Homo sapiens: one gene and its partner. The protein of the gene in region 1 interacts with the protein of each later gene in a biochemical or structural test. Each region holds a gene or a part of one and is shown on either strand. Other genes may lie near its edges.

What was found.
Region 2: the proteins of ARF4 (region 1) and DENND1B form a complex in vitro, tested with the Homo sapiens proteins (one study listed by BioGRID).

Annotation. Positions count from the first base shown.
Region 1 is NC_000003.12:57,586,577-57,595,375, reverse strand, and holds part of ARF4 (ADP-ribosylation factor 4), read left to right. Parts: intron 1-8,799.
Region 2 is NC_000001.11:197,771,215-197,780,912, forward strand, and holds the start of DENND1B (DENN domain-containing protein 1B), read right to left. Parts: upstream 4,267-9,698; 5' UTR 3,942-4,266; coding exon 3,925-3,941; intron 3,865-3,924; exon of another isoform or gene 3,434-3,864; coding exon of another isoform or gene 3,273-3,433; intron 1,719-3,272; coding exon 1,654-1,718; intron 1-1,653. UniProt on the Homo sapiens protein: Guanine nucleotide exchange factor (GEF) for RAB35 that acts as a regulator of T-cell receptor (TCR) internalization in TH2 cells. Acts by promoting the exchange of GDP to GTP, converting inactive GDP-bound RAB35 into its active GTP-bound form.

The DNA of each region.
Region 1 (8,799 bases):
GGAGGACTTCGGACTGTGATAAATGAATTTCCAGTCTGTTCGTTAAAGAGATTTAACAATATATGGTTATGTTCCAGAACACATAGTATATTGGTCTTTTTACTTAAGATTTATTGTAAATGAATTGCTATTTTTCAATTCCTTAGTCTTTTGTGATTGATGAAAGTATCAGAGGGGCAAGGAATATAGAAGTATGCTACCAGCATTTTCATATATTTACTATATTGGGAGGCATTTCCCTCCACCCCAAAAAATGATTCGAAGAAAATGGGAGAGAAAAAATATTTAAGTTTCTGCATTTGTGTGGAGGATTTAGGAGTTACTTGTTTTTAATGTTTTATTACTCAGGCATGCTATCGTTTTGCACTTTAATTTTGGGATAATCAGTTTTCCTTGACTAAAAAACACTTCAGTCACAAGATCGACATTTATGGTAACTCATCAAAGGAAGTATCAACGTACGAGGGAGATATGTGCATGAACAGGGAAAAAGGTGGTTTGGAAGTTTGATAATTCTTACATTTTTCTGTCTGGCTTTATGAGTGACTGACAGCAAAAATAATAGATCACTTTTAAAGTGTCTGCCCCATTCAACTGTTGGAATTATTAATGTTTTACATTAGTGTGCTTCGTTTTTCTTTATAAAGCTTAGATAAGATTCATGCCCTCCTGAGTCAGTGTTTTATTCAGACTTTACCATTTTAAAGTATAAAGGAGATAGCAGTTAGCTGATGTGTCAGGTTTGCCAAACTACTATGGAGAAGTTTTAAATTTAATTCGTACACCTGCTGTTCTTCAAAAGTTCAAGTAACTTTAAAAGATATTGGAAGTTAGCTTGTAGTTAACTGTAATTAAAAAACCAACACAGTGTATCAAATTTAACATCATCTGAACTATTGATTGACAGAAATTATGTACTAGTTATAAGGGTAAGTTATGCAAGTGATGATATTGCCCATACTGCTCGAGTTAGGAAGCAATAGCTTCTGGCCAGGTGTGGTGGCTCACGCCTATTATCCCAGCACTTTGGGAGGCCAGGTTGGGAGGATCACATTGAGGCCAGCCTGGTCAACATAGCAAGACCCCGTATCTATTTGAAAAAAATAAAAATAAAGCAATAGCGTCTGTATTTTATTTTGTTTATTTTTTTTGAGATGGAGTTTCACTCTTGTCTCCCAGGCCAGAGTGCAATGGCATGATCTAGGCTCACTGCAACCTCTGCCTCCTCAGTAGCTGGGATTACAAGCGCCCGCCACCAAGCCCAGCTAATGTTTGTATTTTTAGTAGAGACGGGGTTTCACCATGTTGGCCAGGCTAGTCTCGAACTCCTGACCTCAGGTGATCCACCTGCCTTGGCCTCCCAAAGTGCTAGGATTACAAGCATGAGCCATCACACCCAGCCAGCTTCTGTATTTTGTATATATTTTTTAAATAATTATGTTTTTTTTCCTTTTGAGTAGCTGAGACAACAAGGACATGCCATTAGACCTGCCTGGCTAATTTTTGACATTTTTTGTAGCAAGAAGGTCTCACTATCTTGCCTGTTCTTGGGCTGAAGCGATCCCGCCCACCTCGGCCTCGAAAAGTGCTAGGGTTACAGGGCGAGCCACTGAGCCTGGCTGCATTGTCCTATTTTAAGTCTGGTTTCTGTATCTTGATCCATGATAAGATGTAATGTTGTTAAGTGAATCCTTAAATTATGTATATATCCAAAAATACTAATGTGTTCTGCAGAGGAATTACTAATTCTGATCTCTTTACTTTGAACTTTCCAGTTCTTGCCTGTTGAAAAGCTGAAAAAGTGTTACTTTTAAAAAGTTTGCTGATATCAGTGTAGTGTAGTATGCCAGTGTAGTTCTGTATTGTCTTGAATGTGACTGTGGTTTTGGGGGTCTAGAGATGTTCAGGAGAAAGGATCCTATATTTGTCACTTTAAAAAATATTACCAAGCTAAAGAGTGGTGTTTTATATTTGTTTCTTAGCATATTTTGTAAATCCATCTATTTATGTAATTTTTTTATGTTTTTCCTCTTGATTCTAAAAGTAGTATGTGTTCCTTCTGTTACATTTAGAAAACAGGTAAAAGAATAAAGTGATAATTACCTATCTGTAATTCCACTATTCTGTCATATTTACTCTCAGCCTTATTTTTATTTTTATTTTTTGAGACAGGGTTTTGCTCTGTCACCCATACTCTGGGGCACATACAGGTGGCATGATCATAGCTCACTGTAGCCTTGAACTCCTGGATTCAAGCAATCCCTCCTGCCTTAGGCTCTGGAGTAGCTAGGACTACAGGCGCCACTATGCCCGGCTAATTTTTAAATTATTTTGTAGAGAATGGGGGTCTTGCTCTGTTGCCCAGCTGATCTCAAACTCCTGGGCTCAAGAGGTCCTCCTGCCTCGACCTCCCAAAGTGCTAGGATGACAGGTGTAAGCCACCACACCTGGTACACGCTCAGCCTTTTAAGAGGAAGTTTTTGTTCCTCTAAAATTGTAGTTGTGATGTTTAGTTTTGTGTCCTCTCTTTTTGATTTAGCTTATTACAAGCATTTTCTCAGGTTATTGGTTGAACATATAACTGCCAGCCTTTAAAAAAACAGGCTCTTCTGATTATGTGAATATAGGAAACAGAAAAGGCAAAAATCCTGTTTCATGCCACTGGCTGATAGGTACAGCCATCCTTAGATGCACCCTTTTGCATTATTATAGTAGTGCAATAGGCTGTCGGAAACTTTGATAATTTGCTGCTAATTAACTGATAAAAATGTAGATGTTTCTCATCCGTGTGTAGAAGCAGAACCTAAGTTCACATTTTTCCGTATAACTGGTGGCCTGAGTTTCAGTTTGGTTGGTCAAGCATCTGATGAATTTGATAAAAAATATTTGAGATGGAGTCTCACTGTGTCACCCAGGCTCGAGTACAGTGGTGCAATCTCAGGTCACTGCAACCTCCGCCTCCTGGGTTCAAGCAATCCTTCTGCCTCAGTCTCTCCAGTAGCTGGGATTACAGGCCCCCTCCCACCATGCCCGGCTAATTTTCATATTTGTAGTAGAGAGGGTTTCACCATATTGGTCAAGCTGGTCTCAAACTCCTGACCTCAGGTGATCCACCTGCCTCATTCTCCCAAAGTGCTGCGATTACAGGCATGAGTCACCGTGCCTGGCCAAAATATTAAGATACAGTATGTCCACCAGAAAAACCTAAAGGCAGGATGGCAGCATGTAAATAGTATTTGAGGTCTCTGGCATCAGAACTAGGTTTTTTGGTTTTGGCTTTTTAGAAAATTTTTTAATAAAAAAATCAAGATATAATACATAGACCATAAAGTTTACCCTGTTAAAGTGTACAGTTCCGTGGGTTTTAGTATATGTATTCAAAGTTGTGTAACCATCACCATTGTCTAATTCCAGAATTTTTCATCATCCCTCAAAGAAACCTGATACCCATTAGTAATAATTCCCATTCCCCTTTCTTCCCAGCCCGTAATCTGTTTTCTGTTTCTATGGGTTAATCTATTCCGGACACTTCATTTAATGGAATCATGATTTATGGCCTCTTTGTCTGGCTTTTTTCACTTGGCATGATGTTGTCAAAGTTCATTCATAATGGCCGGGCGCGGTGGCTCACGCCTGTAATCCCAGCACTTTGGGAGGCTGAGGCGGGCAGATCACGAGGTCAGGAGTTCGAGACCAGCCTGGACAACATAGTGAAACCCCATCTATACTCAAAATACAAAAATTAGCCGGGTGTGGTGGCAGATACCTGTAGTCCCAGCAACTCAGGAGGCCGAGGCACGAGAATCCCTTGAACCCGGGAGGTGGAGGTTGCAGTGAGCTGAGATCGTGCCATTGCACTCCAGCCTAGGTGACAGAGTGAGACTCTGTCTCAAAAAAAAAAAAAGAAAAGAAAAGAGAAGAAAAAAGTTCATTCATATTATAGCGTATATTAGTACTTCATTCTTTTTTTTTTCCTTTTCATTAAATTCACATAAGCACCTCATTTCTTTTGATGGCCAAATAGTAATTACATTGTATGGATAAACCACATTTTATTTATCCATTCATCAGATGATAAAAATTAGGTTGTTTTCACTTTCTAGCTCTTCAACATTCATGAACAAGTTTTTGTGTGGGCATGTGTTTTAAATTCTCTGATAAATACTTAGGAGCGGAATTGTGTCATGGTAACCGTCTTGAACATTTTGAGGACCTGACAAACATTTCCATTTTACATCCTCGTTTACATCCCCACTAGCAATATATGAGGGTTCTAATTTTTCTGCAAGACTCAGGTTTTTAAATATCTGTTCTTCTGTTTCTGTGACTGTGGGGGACATTTCTGGACATTAAATGTCTCATCTGAAAAATGAAAGGTTATTGTGAGAATTAAAGTCCAAAAATGTATAGAATCACCTACTATGCTTAGAATGCAGTAAATATTCAATTTTAAATTATTATTTTAAACTATTACGCAGCCTGGGCACCATACCATGGCAAGACCTCATCTCTACAAAAAAATTTTAAAAATTAGCTGGGCATGGTGGCGTGCCCCTGTAGACCCAGCTACTAGGGAGGCTGAGGTGGGAGGATTGCTGGAGCCCAGGAGTTTGAGGCTACAGTGAGCCATGTTTGCACCACTGCACTCCAGGCTGGGTGACAGATCGAGACCCTGTCTCAAAAAACAAATGTATATATATGTACACACACACACTTATAATTATGAAGGTATATTTCAAACTTGTAGATAATTTGAAAGATAAAGGAAAACATGAAAAATCTTTTTATCCATCTGAAAATACTCTTTTGTCTTTCCAGTCTTACTCCTTTCTGCAATATTTTTTTCTCCCTCAAAGTTGAGATCATTGGATCTAACTTTTTTCTTTTTTTGAGACGGAGTCTTGCTTTGTTGCCTAGGCTAGAGTGCAGTGGCGCAATCTCGGCTCACTACAGACTCCGCCTCCCGGGTTCAAGCGATTCTCCTGCCTCAGCCTCCCAAGTAGCTGGGATTACAGGCACCCGCCACTGCGCCCGGCTAATTTTTGTATTTTTTAGTAGAGACAGGGTTTCACCATCTTGGCCAGGCTGGTCTCAAACTCCTGACCTCATGATCCATCCACCTCAGCCTCCCAAAGTGCTGGGATTACAGGTGTGAGCCACTGCACCCGGCCTCAATTTTTCATCACTAATTATGATACTAGCTGTAGGTTTTTTATAGATGTTCTTTTTTTGTTTTTTGTTTTATTTATTTATTTATTTATTTATTTATTTATTTATTTATTTATTGAGACAGAGTCTTGGTCTGTTGCCCAGGCTGGAGTGCAGTGGCATGATCTCGACTCACTGCGCCTCCACCTCCCGGGTTCAAGCAATTCTCCTGCCTCAGCCTCCCGAGTAGCTGGGATTACAGGCGCCCGCCACCATGCCTGGCTAATTTTTGTATTTTTAGTAGAGATGGGGTTTCACCATGTTGGCCAGGCTGGTTTCAAACTCCTGGCCTCATGATCCACCCTCCTCGGCCTCCTAAAGTGCTGGGATTTCAGGTGTGAGCCACCGTGCCCGGCTGGATCTAACTTTTTAAATTTAAAATGTAAGTATTTCTTGCTGCCATAATTATGGGCAAAGGTTTGTTTTTTTGGGTTTTTTGTTTGTTTTTTTGAGACGGAGTCTCGCTTTGTTGCCCAGGCTGGAGTGCCGTGGCGCGGTATGGGCTCACTGTAACCTCCACCTCCCGGGTTCAAGCGATTCTCCTGCCTCAGCCTCCCAAGTAGCTGGGTTTACAGGCGCCAGCCACCACGCCTAGCTAATTTTTGTATTTTTAGTAGAGACTGGGTTTCACCACGTTGGCCAGGCTGGTCGCGAACTGCTGACCTCGTGATCCACCCACTTCAGCCTCCCAAAGTGCTGGGATTACAGGTGTGAGCCACGGGGCCCGGCCTTGTTTGTTTGAGACAGGATCTTGCTCTGTTGCTTACGCTGAATTGCAGTGGTGTGATCATGGCTCGCTGCAGCCTTGATCCCCTGGGCTCAAGGGATCCTCCTGCCTCAGCCTCCCACGTAGCTGGGAATATAGATGGGCACCACCCTGCCTAATTTTTGTTTGTTTTGAGACAGGGTCTCAATTCTGTTGCCCAGGCTGAAGCACAGTGGTGCGATCACAGCTCACTGCAGCCTTGACCTCCTGGGGTCAAGTGATCCTCCCATCTCAGCCTCACCCAGTAGCTGGGACTACAGGCATGTGCCATCACAACCGGCTAATTTTTTTTTTTTTTTGAGACGGAGTTTTGCTCCTGTTGCCCAGGTTGGAGTGTAATGGCGCGATCTCAGCTCACTGCGACCTCCGCCTCTCAGGTTCAAGCAATTCTCCTGCCTCAGCCTCCCGAGTAGCTGGGATTACAGGCATGTGCCACTACACCCAGCTAATTTTGTATTTTTAGTAGAGACGGGCTTTCTCCATGTTGGTCAGGCTGGTCTCTAATTCCTGACTTCAGGTGATCCACCTGCCTTGGCTTCCCAAAGTGCTGGGATTACAGGTGTGAGCCACTGTGCCTCACTCACACCTGGCTAATTTTTGTATTTTTTGTAGTGACAGGGTTTTGCCATGTTGTCCAGGCTGGTCACAAACTCCTGAGCTCAGGTCATCCACCTGCCTCAGCCTCCCAACATGCTGGGATTACAGGTGTGAGTAGAGACGGGCTTTCTCCATGTTGGTCAGGCTGGTCTCTGACTCCTGACTTCAGGTGATCCACCCGCCTTGGCTTCCCAAAGTGCTGGGATTACAGGTGTGAGCCACTGTGCCCCACTCACACCTGGCTAATTTTTGTATTTTTTGTAGTGACAGGGTTTTGCCATGTTGTCCAGGCTGGTCACAAACTCCTGAGCTCAGGTCATCCACCTGCCTCAGCCTCCCAACATGCTGGGATTACAGGTGTGAGCCACCATGCACAGCTTCCCAGCTAATTTACTTTTTCTTCTTTAAAGATGGATCTCGCTATGTTGACCAGGCTGGTTTCAAACTCCTGGGCTCAAGCGATCCGCCTGCCTCAGCCTCCCAAAGTGCTAGGATTACAGGTGTGAGTGACTGCCTGGCCAGCAAAGATTTCTGAGGTAGTTTTCCTGCTATAGTAACACTTTGGTCAAAGTGCAGGTCTAGTTAAGGAGAACAAGTATTCCAGTACATCTTTAAATACAGTTGCTTGTTTCTGGACACGGAGGGGAGGGAGACCATTGCTGGGCTATACAGATTAGTCTTATCTTGGCTAGTTGAAAATTGGTAATAGTTTTCATTTTGTGGAGAAATTTCATTGCCAAATATTGCAACATTAAGGAAATACATAAGAAATGACTGAAGTGGCTCAAAATTGTTGGACCAATATGTTTTTGAGTAAAGAACTATAAGTTTTAAGTGATGACTGTATATGTTTAATTCGTGCATTAAAGCTTATAAATACCTTTTTCAAAAACTCTTAATTTGCATTTATACAGCATTGTTATTTTTGATACAACTGCATAAGATACATTCTGTGTTGCTGTGAGCCATTAAACTGTTGTCTTGTAATTTATATTTAGAAAATAATTTGTGGATACTTAAAAGTCATTATGGGCGCATTATTTTTTCCCCTTGAATTCTGGGGTGACCTAGAAATGGTTGCATGATTTTGTAAACACTTCCCTTTTTAAAAAAGTAAAATGAGTATGTAAAATATTATATATTTAAAGCCCTCAAGCAGTCGTCTTCAAAAAGATACATCAGGAAATGTAAACAGCCCAACATTTTAATTAAAAAAAATCTGCTTGGACAATTTTTTTTCTCTTTTCATAAAAGTAATACATGATTTTTGGGTAAAAAAAAATTCCTATCAGTAGAGGAGCAAGGAAAATAATTATTCATACAGTATTCATACAAGCACATATAAAACCTATTAAAAGAAAACTTGGATTACCTACATGCTTTTGTATAATTTAAAATGATATAGTCATGATTTGTCTTGGATTTCTTCAATTCTTTTCTTTGTCAGTATTTTTGGATTTACTTTTTTTTTTTTTTTTTTTTTTTGAGACTGAGTTCCGCTCTTGTTGTCCAGGCTGTAGTGCAATGGCACGATCTCGGCTCACTGCAACATCCGCCTCCTGGGTTCAAGCGAGTCTCCTGCCTCAGCCTCCAGAGTATCTGGGATTATAGGCATATGCCACCACATCCAGCTAGTTTCTGTATTTTTAGTAGAGACGGGATTTTACCATGTTGGCCAGGCTGGTCTCAAACTCCTGGCCTCAGGTGATTCGCCCACCTCAGCCTCCCAAAGTACTGTGATTACAGGCATGAGCCACAGCGCCAGGCCTTACCTTGTTTTTAAATGACAATCTGAGGTCCAGTTGGACCTCCGGTGATAACTGGCAGGTACCATAGTTTTGTGTGTGTGCGTGTGTGTGTGTGTTTCTTAATCAGCGTCTCAGTTTCAATTCTGACTTGGCTTAATCATATTTGAACTTAAAGGTTAATTTTGGTTAACTTAAAAATCTGATGCTTTCAAGAGACAGCTTTGTTGGACCATTTAAAGATCCAGTTGTTTTTTGCCACCCCCCTTTGTTTTATATCTTGTTACTAAAGATGCCAAACTTTAATGTAGCTCCTTTTTATGTATTTTTTAGAATTATGTTTTCTGATTTTTTTGATAATGTTCCATGCTCAAAAAATAAAACACTTGTATAACAGTTGGTTTTTATTATTATGCTCATGAATGAGGGCTTGATGTGGGCTGATCACACTGACTAGTAGTTGGGAAGGAATAAACCTGTATC
Region 2 (9,698 bases), on another chromosome or scaffold:
ACAAGCAATATCAGATGAGCGTTACTTCACGCACCTTCGGTAATGTTGTGGTAGATATTTTTTAGATTAACTTATATCATAAACCACTATAGAATAGAATTAAATTGGAGCTGAAAACATAATGTATCCATTTGAGTATCCATTCTACCTAATATATCCATTCTTCAAAGAGGACCCGGTTGGGGCTCAAAATAATGCAAATGGACAAACTTTACTACATACAGGACAATAAAAGATAACTTCATCAACTAGAAAAGGCTCCCTACAACCTAGGATCACTCCTTGCCAATAGACAAACCTGACCACAGCTGCAGTTCAGATAGACCAGGAGTACAGTAGTAGGGCTGGTGGAGCCAACAATATGTGACTTCATACTAAAATTAGCCATGCCCATTTCACCACAACTGGGTTGGGCTTCTCTATTTTAAGGTGTGCAGCTCCAAATTACTTAAGAGTAGGTAATTGCTGGATAGTTTCTGAAGCTAAAATTGTCAGCAGACTTTCCTCCAAGGCTTTAGGATGGCCAATCAGTCTCCACGAAACCCCTATGCTTAATCATCATGCTATCCAGGGTCTAAGCACACAGCAAGTAAAGACATATACTTTAAGTATCTAGAAAGACATACCATGCAAGAACACATTAAAAGAAAATAGGCAAGAAAAGAATTCCTTATTCTTGTCTGCTAACCCTGCCGCCTACCACACATATGCACAATACACAATATGACAAAAGTGGAGGGAAATGATGAAAATCATGACATTAAAGTATTATGCTCTCATCTTTTCAGGAAATTGTACGGAACTGACAGCTGAAACCCTTCCAAGTAATTTCACACTATCGTTTACCTCCCTGCAAAAGTGCTGTGCTATTGGAGTAAATCCAACAGAAGGGGCTACTCAGTCTGCATTCTGCGTTCTGGAAACATCAGAAGGGAAGTGGTGTAGTTTCCATTGGTACTAGCAGGAGAATGTGCACTAATGTTTAAAAAAAGACACTAAATTTCCAAACATAAATGAAAGAAAATGAAAAGATTCGCCCTTTCACCAAAACTAATGATAACTTTACCAACGAATGGTGAAGCTGAGTTGTAAGTTATATGGGCTTAACAACACACCTGAAATTCAAGCTGCACTGATAACATTCATGATTTTTACAATCCCAGGGCAAAGACTTAACACCTATTTTATTACCAGCAACTTGAGACACTCAATGCAGAATACACATTTAGTAGTATTATTTTCCTATTACTACCATGTTCCAGCAGTCCACAATATTAACACTTGCTTTGACAGATTCAATCAATTATTTTAAGAATTAACAGAACAGGCCAGGCACAGTGGCTCACGCCTGTAATCCCAACAATTTGGGAGGGCAAGGTGGGTGGATCACTTGAGCCCAGGAGTTCAAGACCAGCCTGGGCAACGTGGTGAACCCTGTCTCCACAAAAAAATATACAAAAATTAGCTGAGCATGGTGGTGTGCATTGGTAGCTCCAGCTACTCGGGAGGCTGAGGTGGGAGGATCACCTGAACCCGGGAAGGAGAGGTTGTGGTGAGCCCTGATCATGCCACTGCACAGCCTGAGGAACAGAATGAGATCTTGTCCCAAAAAAAAGAGACCTTGTCAAATAACAGAACACAGAAGACACATACCTTCATTTTCAGAGGCATGACATTTCACTTTCAACACCAAGTCAAAGGTTCTGTCTGGATTTGCCCTAAAAGGAAAAAGTTTAAATTAATTTCCTATGACAAATAAACATCTCCATGAAACTTGTATTTTCTTAATTCTAAAACTAATCTTGTTTTTGTCTCAATACATTTCACGTGACTGTATTACTACAGTATAGTAGAAATAACAATGAAACTGTTTTCTCAATTGAGCAACTTAAAAGAGCTGAGACTTAGGAATTCTGAAACTTGGGGCAAAGCATTTAAACGCTGAGACTGTTCTCCCTTACCTATGAGGTGCCTTGTCCACTTCACAGAATAATAGTGAGGATTATAAATCAAATAACATATGTGCAAGTACTTCATTAAGTACTAAGTGCTACAAAAATGCAAAGTATTGGTTTTATCTTATTGGATCAAATTTAAAAGCCAGAGTGTCCCTAAGTGTCATTATACCCTGCCAACAGAGTTTGACACAGGTTCTCAGGCTGTCTCCAAAGGACTTGCAATATAAGTGTAAATGATGAATACATGGTTCCACCTGCCAAGTTCTAGATCACCATAAAACATTGATAATGCTCCATGAATGTGATACGTTGCATATACTTTTCTTAAAATGTATTTACTGTACTTATGCATATTTAAAGTAGCAAACTATTCATAGCTCTAAGGCTAGCAACATAAAAAGCCTTCTTTTTATCCATTATCTTTGGAGAAACCAGCCATCTGCTTCCATGTTAGATTTTCCCACTAGAAACTGTAAGTTTACTTTGCTTAATTCAGAAGTTATTGACTTTTTTACTAACTTGCCATATTTGCAAAATTTCAAAGCAACATTGGTTAAATTTCAAAAAGTGAACTGAAATATACTGAGACACTTTTTCTTCATAACATTGCTGTTTAAATCTCTCGTTCCATCATAAGGTAAAAGATTAAGTCTGTTACCACAACGGCCAATGTGTTAATATCTCAGTTATTCCTGCTAACAAGACCTTAGTGCCTTTGTACATTGGCTGTATTTAATATGTACTTCCTTCAAGAAACGAATGCCAGCTCTGACTTTAAAAAAAAGCATTTCTTTTTTTGGAAGCTTTTCTTATAAGATATGAATCTGGAAACATAGGAAGTGACAAGACATATAAATTAACATGCAAATATACATTTTTTTAGCCTTTCCGCTATTAACTTGTTTCAATGGGAATAATCTGGGCTCAGATGACTTCCTCCCTCTTAAAACAATTAATGTCAAGAAGCATACTATTTTTACTCACTTACCCTGCCCACCATGATGTCAAACACACTGAAGAAAATAATTCTATTACATAATTTCCCTCTTTCCCTAATATTCTTTAGAATTTCTCTTAGGTGTAAAAGTTAAATATTGACTCAGTTTTACTTCTGTGAAATTCAAACGGCCTTTCACAATAATACAAATATACATGGCATTATTTTAAACTTTTTGAGAAGGAGATAGTAAAGGGTGGGTAAGCGAAGTAAAAAGGAATTCTTTCCAAAGTTAAGTTTCAGAAGAAAAATATAAAACTCATGCCTCTAAGATACCTAGAAACAAAATCACCACCGTTATTAAAATTGCTTTTTACCTAATCTCCTGAGCAAAGTAGTCGTTGATAAATACTTTAGCACACACATAAAAGTACCCTCTAATTGGATACCGTTTTGCAAGAACCATGCATCTACAGTTGCTGCATAAAGAAACACCAGAGACCAATCTAATTTTATAAGCAGAATCATAAGAAAACATCCAAGACAAAAGTAACAAACGGACTTAAGAAAACACCGGTTATATTTAATGCTCAGAGAGCACTCGGAATAATAACCTCTTAACCTCAACGCTGACTCCCTCCCGGACACCACACGCACACAGGCAGCCCCAGGAGAGTCACATCTGACACACTCGGGGGAAGCACGAGAACCCCTCAGCGGCGGTGTCAGGGGCCGCCCGGCCTCCCCTGTCCCCCGAAAGGCGGGCGTCGACAAGGCGCTAGTGGCCTCTCCGGGAGGAGCCGCGCCAACCACGGAGGGCCGGGGACGCAGGGCGGGCAGGCTTTGCGGCCTAGCGCCGTCCCGCCGGCCGGCCAGAGGCTTGGGGGCCGGACCGCACCCCCAGCCCGCCCGGCCAACCTCGGCCGCCCGGGGAGCCGGTTGAGCGCGGAGGCGCGGAGGAGCCGAGCTGGCCTGGGAGGGGCCGCCGAGGGACGCCCGCCCCCGACGCGCCCGGGCCCCCCCACTCACTTGGTCCTGCAGTCCATGGTTACATGTCGGTGTGGGGCTGTCCGTCCGGCCCCCGCGCGCTGGCCTGGAAGCCCGCAGCCCGGCCGCGCGAGGGTCGCGCCGTCCCCGCCCACGCCGGCGGCCACACAGGGAAAGAGGCTGCTCACAGCAGCCGTGGCGGCGGGCCCATGTCGGCTGCGCCCCCGGCACTTCCCCGCCTCCCACCCCACCCACCAGAGCCTTTCTGTGACAGCAGCGGTGGCGTGGCCGCCGCCCCCGTCTCCGCCGGTAGCCGCCACCAAAGCTGAGGCCTCTCAGTTCCTGCGACCGGGGCCGCCCGCTGCGGCTCCTGCACCTTCTTGCAAATCAGGAAGTCGCCGGGAGGGGGAAGGGGCGCGCGGGGACGCGCCCAGCGGCTTCACCTGGGCCGTGCGGCTCGCAAGTCGGAGACTGTGGAGGAGGCGGGGGCCAGGTCCCCGCGCCCGGGCGGCCAGAGGGTGCAGGGGGAGCGCTAGTGCCTGCTGGGATGGCCCACGTACCGCTTTGCCACCTAGCCAGAAAGGCAAGGTGCCCCCTGTGTCCTCAGCATGAACCAAACCGGCTTCCTTTCTGGGTCCAGTCCAGATTCCAGGGCGTCGGGGCTGCAACCCCACAAAGGGCGAAGTACCTGGAAAAGTACCTCGACCTGCAGTGTTTTCCACACACATACACACGGACTTGGGTTCCTTTCATTTCATACTACAAATTCAGAGCTCAAGTTGATGCCCCTGGCTCTTGCGTCACTCCAGCTGTGGCCTGCTTACAGCTCTCTGAAATCCAGAGCTACCCCCTCCTGATTCAGGAATGTTCAGACATGTGCACCTGCTAAATAGCCCTGTCAAGTAGCCAAATGGTAGTGCCCCACTTGTCTGCGCATGTGGGAGGCAGACATTCCTATACCACAGACTGCAGTGATAACCAAGGACTAACTTTTGAACACATGTACATAGTCGCAGGCCTCATAGTCTGGCAGTTTAGGCGAGTTCAGAGAGGGCACCACTGAATAAGCGTGGGAGGGACTGATTTACACAGCCCTAAAGCACATGTGAAGCAGGTTATGTGCACTCTCACCCAGTACTTGTCATAGGTGTGTGATAGATACTTTCATCAGCATTTTACAGATGAAGAAACCAGGGAGTAATGGCAAAGCTGGAGTTCACACCAGGTCTATCTGATGCTGATTATTTACTTCTACCTCATATTGCCTGTCTCCCTCCTCTGCTGTCTCATATTTAGGATCTACTGAGAAGACAGGTAGAAAAGTCTTATGATGGACATTCAAATGACTGTGGAAGGCCAGGCTCTTACACAGAGATCTTCTGGGAAAGGCCTTCTCCCAGCTAACACTGCCACCCTTGACACATAGCCACAGTGTTTCTTCCAAAAGGTGGTTACTTCAGACTTTATTCATGCAGAAGTTAAGATGATGAGAGGAAACCAAATGTGGTATGAATGTAGTGTGAGTCATAAGACATAAAAGTCAGAAAAGGAGTCTTAAGAATTAAAAAACTCAAGAGTCAGAGAACCTGAAGTTGCACTCAGTTATATAACCTTAAACTTTCTTGCCAAAATTGGGTACTACTTGGTCAACAGGATCAGAAATATTGTATAGCCATGGGCCTGTTAGTAAAAAATGAGGACGGGCCATAACTGGGAAACAAACAAACAAAAAAAAAATGTGTTTATCATAAAGTGTTGTCATAGCTTGACTCGGGGTGAGACACTTCAGTTTCTCGGTTCCTACATTTGTAAAATGGGAATTATTACTTGTACATCACATGAGCAGTGTGATGTTCAAGTAAAACAGGTGCTACAAATTTGTATTATCTTTTGAGAAATTATTCTGTGAATTTCAGTTTCACAATTAGGCAAACTATACTACATAAGTTTTCTTTTCCCAAATAAAGATTTTTCTGCATAAGTGACCATACTCCAAAGCCTTGAAAAAAAAAATTCGTAAGCTAAAAGCCACTTCTGCCCCAACTGTTACTGAATTTCTCAAACTTCTCCTTTCATTATAATTAATTATTTCCAAAGAAAGGAACCCTACTTGGGGTGACCATATTGAGGACTTTTTAATTTGGTGTGAGGAGATAATAATACAATTGTTTTCCTCATCCATTGTTGGGATTTTATTTTAAATGACAGTCATACCCTTGAACAGTATAAAATTGTTCTTCATTCCATTTATGTTAAGTACATCGAGGGAAATACTACACATTCGCATCCCAAAGCAAATCTTTTTAAGTGAGCTTTTAGGCTGACCATAATGAAGAGATTTATCTGTTCTGTTATTACTGAAATAAAAGGGATAGGAACATAGGTGTACATGATCTACATGCATGAGGTGTTAAAAAATTAGAAAACAAATATCATACACTTACCTTGGTAATAGCTTTAATGAAATCGATGGTATAACTTTAGTAATACTCATTTCATATAGAACTTCCCATATGACTGATAGAGAAGTGTACAAAGGGCAAACCTTCAAATTAGTCTTAAATCTTCCCAAGATCATATTTCAGCAATGATATTTCCTACTCGACAATTAATATTAACAGTTTTCAGGACCATACCAGTCAAAGAACATAGTCTGTATTGTTGTCAAAGAACATGGTCTTTATTTATTAATTAATTTCTTATTAATTAATTAATTTAGTTAATTTTTTAAATGTTTCAAGACTTAAATGTTGTATGTGGTTTGTAAAGAATATATATTCTGCAGCTTTGGGGTACAGTGTTCTAAATATATGTCCATGATCAAATACGATGATTGTGTTGTTGACATCTTCTATTACTGAATTTGCATCTGCTTGACATAATTCAATTAATGGGAGAGATGAGTTTAAATATCCCAACATGATGGTAGATTTTTCTATTTCAGCCTATAGTTCTTTCAGGTTCTACCTTACACAGTTTGGGGCTGTGTAATAATATACACATCAGTTTATAATTTCTATATCTACCTAATAAATACAACCATTCATCATTATGTTGTTACTTTCTTTACCTCCAATCGTACTTTTGCCTTAGATTCTAAACAGTTTTCTTCTGAATAGTATTTGTCTGATGTTAGGATATCTCTTTTCATCCTTTTACATTCAAACTTTCTAAACCATCATGTTTCAAATTTATCTAAAATTTTTAGTCTTGATTTTTAATCTAGTCTGATCATCTTTAGCTCTTACATCAAACCCCTAGACAATTTGCATGTATTAAAACTGTTGATAAATTTAGGCTGGGCGCAGTGGCTCATGCCTGTCATCCCATCACTTTGGGAGGCTAAGGCGGGTAGATTAGTTGAGGCCAGGAGTTCAAGACCAGCCTGGCCAACTTGGTGAAACCCTGTCTGCTAAAAATACAAAAATTAGCTGGGTGTGGTGGGTGGTGCAAGCCTGTAGTCCCAGATAATAAGGAGGCTGAGGCTTCAGAATCACTTGAACCTGGGAGGCAGAGGTTGCAGTGAGCCAAGATCATGCCGCTGCATTGCAGCCTGGTTGACAGAGTGAGACACTGTCTAAAAAAAATTAAAAAAAAAAAAGAGAGAAAAATGCTGATAAATTTAAATCTATTTCTGCCATCTAATTTTGTACTTCCCGTTTGTTTCTTCTGATCTGTTTTTTTCTTTCACTTTTGCATTCTTTAGGATTACTATTTATGCTTTCATTTCTGCCCCCACCTCTTCTAGTTTGGAAGTTATTTACTCTGTTTCTATTCATTTAGGAGTTATCCTAGAAATTTTAATAGGTACATTTTAACTGATTAAAGCCAGAGTTCACAAGGATATCCACCCTCTCTCAAACAATACAAGAACCTCTAAAACCCCCTCAAAACTAAAATCCCCCCAAAAATGCATTATGAATGTTGTTTTATACAGTCCATGTTTGTTTAGATTTACTCAGAACTTTACCATTCTTTTGTATTTTCATTTTAGATCTTCTGTGTAGGATCACTTTCCTTCTGCCTAAAATTCTTTCCCTTTTTGTTTGAGTTGGAATGTATTTATTTATCCCTCACTCTTGAAAAATATTTTCACTGATGAAGAATTCAAAGTTTACTATTATTTCTTTCTGCATGTTATCAATATCATTACACTGTCTTCTAAGTTCCCTAATAACAATTGGAACTTTGAAAGTAATCTTAAAATGTCATCTGTTTTTTCTCTCTGACTGCATTTATGATGTTTCATTTTTGTCTTTAGTTTTCTATAGTTTCACTGTGAAGTATCTAGGTGTAGATTTTTATTCATCCATGTTTCTTGGTTTCTTTAATTTTCTTGACTCTGGATTGGTGACTTTCATCAGTTCTGGAAAATTCTGGACTCCTTTCTTTCCATTCCTTCTGGGACTCTGATAACACATGTGTTATTCTACCCTCCATGTTTGTCAAACATCTCTTTTATAGTATGTCTCTCTTTATCTGTCTACGCTGTATTCTGGAAAATTTCAAAAATATTCTGTTCACTAATTCTTTCTTCAGCTTTGTCTCATTTTCTGTCAAAGTCACCCATTTAGTTTTTAATTTATATTATTTTTATTTCTAAAGTTCTGTTTGGTTATTTTCCAAATCTGTATTCTCTTAACTCATATTTTCAGCATCTCTTTAATTTATTAAAAATATTTAATATATATACTTTAAATTCTATTTCTAAAAATTCCAATATCTGAAGCATTTGTGGGTCTGCTTCTACTAACTGATCTTTTTTCTACTTGTTCATACTTATGGTCTCTTGATTTCTTCTATGTATGTGATTTCTTTTTATGTTATGTGATCCTTAGAACTTTATATATAGAAATTGAGTGACAGCTGAAATGAAAATGAGTTCTCTGGAGAAGATATTAATTTACTGCTGGTAGATGCTTGGGATCACTAGCAATTCAGAAACATAAACACTAAATTCTCAGCTTGAAATTCTTCAGACCATTCATGTGAGACCTGGTTTGTAGCTATGAATCCTCTGGGAAGCTTTTTTCCCCTTAACTATGCTCCATTGTTTGAGACAATTGTCCTTGAATACCTTTGGGGTGTATCAGCTTTATGAAGAGTATCCTGTTGGATTTCCCACATTAGGAAGGGTCTGAAGACCCATAAGACCATGATAACAGTTCATGGTCTTCCAGTTCATCCAGCTTAGGAAAAACCCTAAAGATGAAGATGAAAGGTGGCTTTTCTTTTTTTTTTTTTTTTTGAGATGGAGTCTCGCTCTGTCGCCAGGCTGGAGTGCAGTGGCGTGATCTTGGCTCACTGCAACCTCCACCTCCTGGGTTCAAGCAATTCTCCTGCCTCAGCCTCCCGAGTAGCTGGAACTACAGGCACCTGCCATCACGCCTAGCTAATTTTTGTATTTTTAGTAGAGGCAGGGTTTCACCATGTTGGTCAGGACGGTCTCCATCTCTTGACCTCGTGATCCACCCACCTCGGCCTCCCAAAGTGCTGGGATTACAGAGAGAGGTGGCTCTTGTAGCTACTTTTATTTGTCCCCCATCCTCCACCCCTAAGTATTCTCACTTGATTGCCTGCTCTTCAATGCATTGCAAGCTTTTAAAAATACTTAATTCTGAATTTTTAGTTGATTTTCATGCAAGTTTTGATCAGACTATAATGGATAATTACTTGGTTCTGACTATAGTGTCATGTAAAATGGACTAATTGCAACTTTTTAATCCACCTAATAAGGTCCACTTTCCTCAAACCAGGTCCAAAAAGTCCCCAACTTATATATCCCTATATATTAATGGTGTAGAGAAACCCAAGTT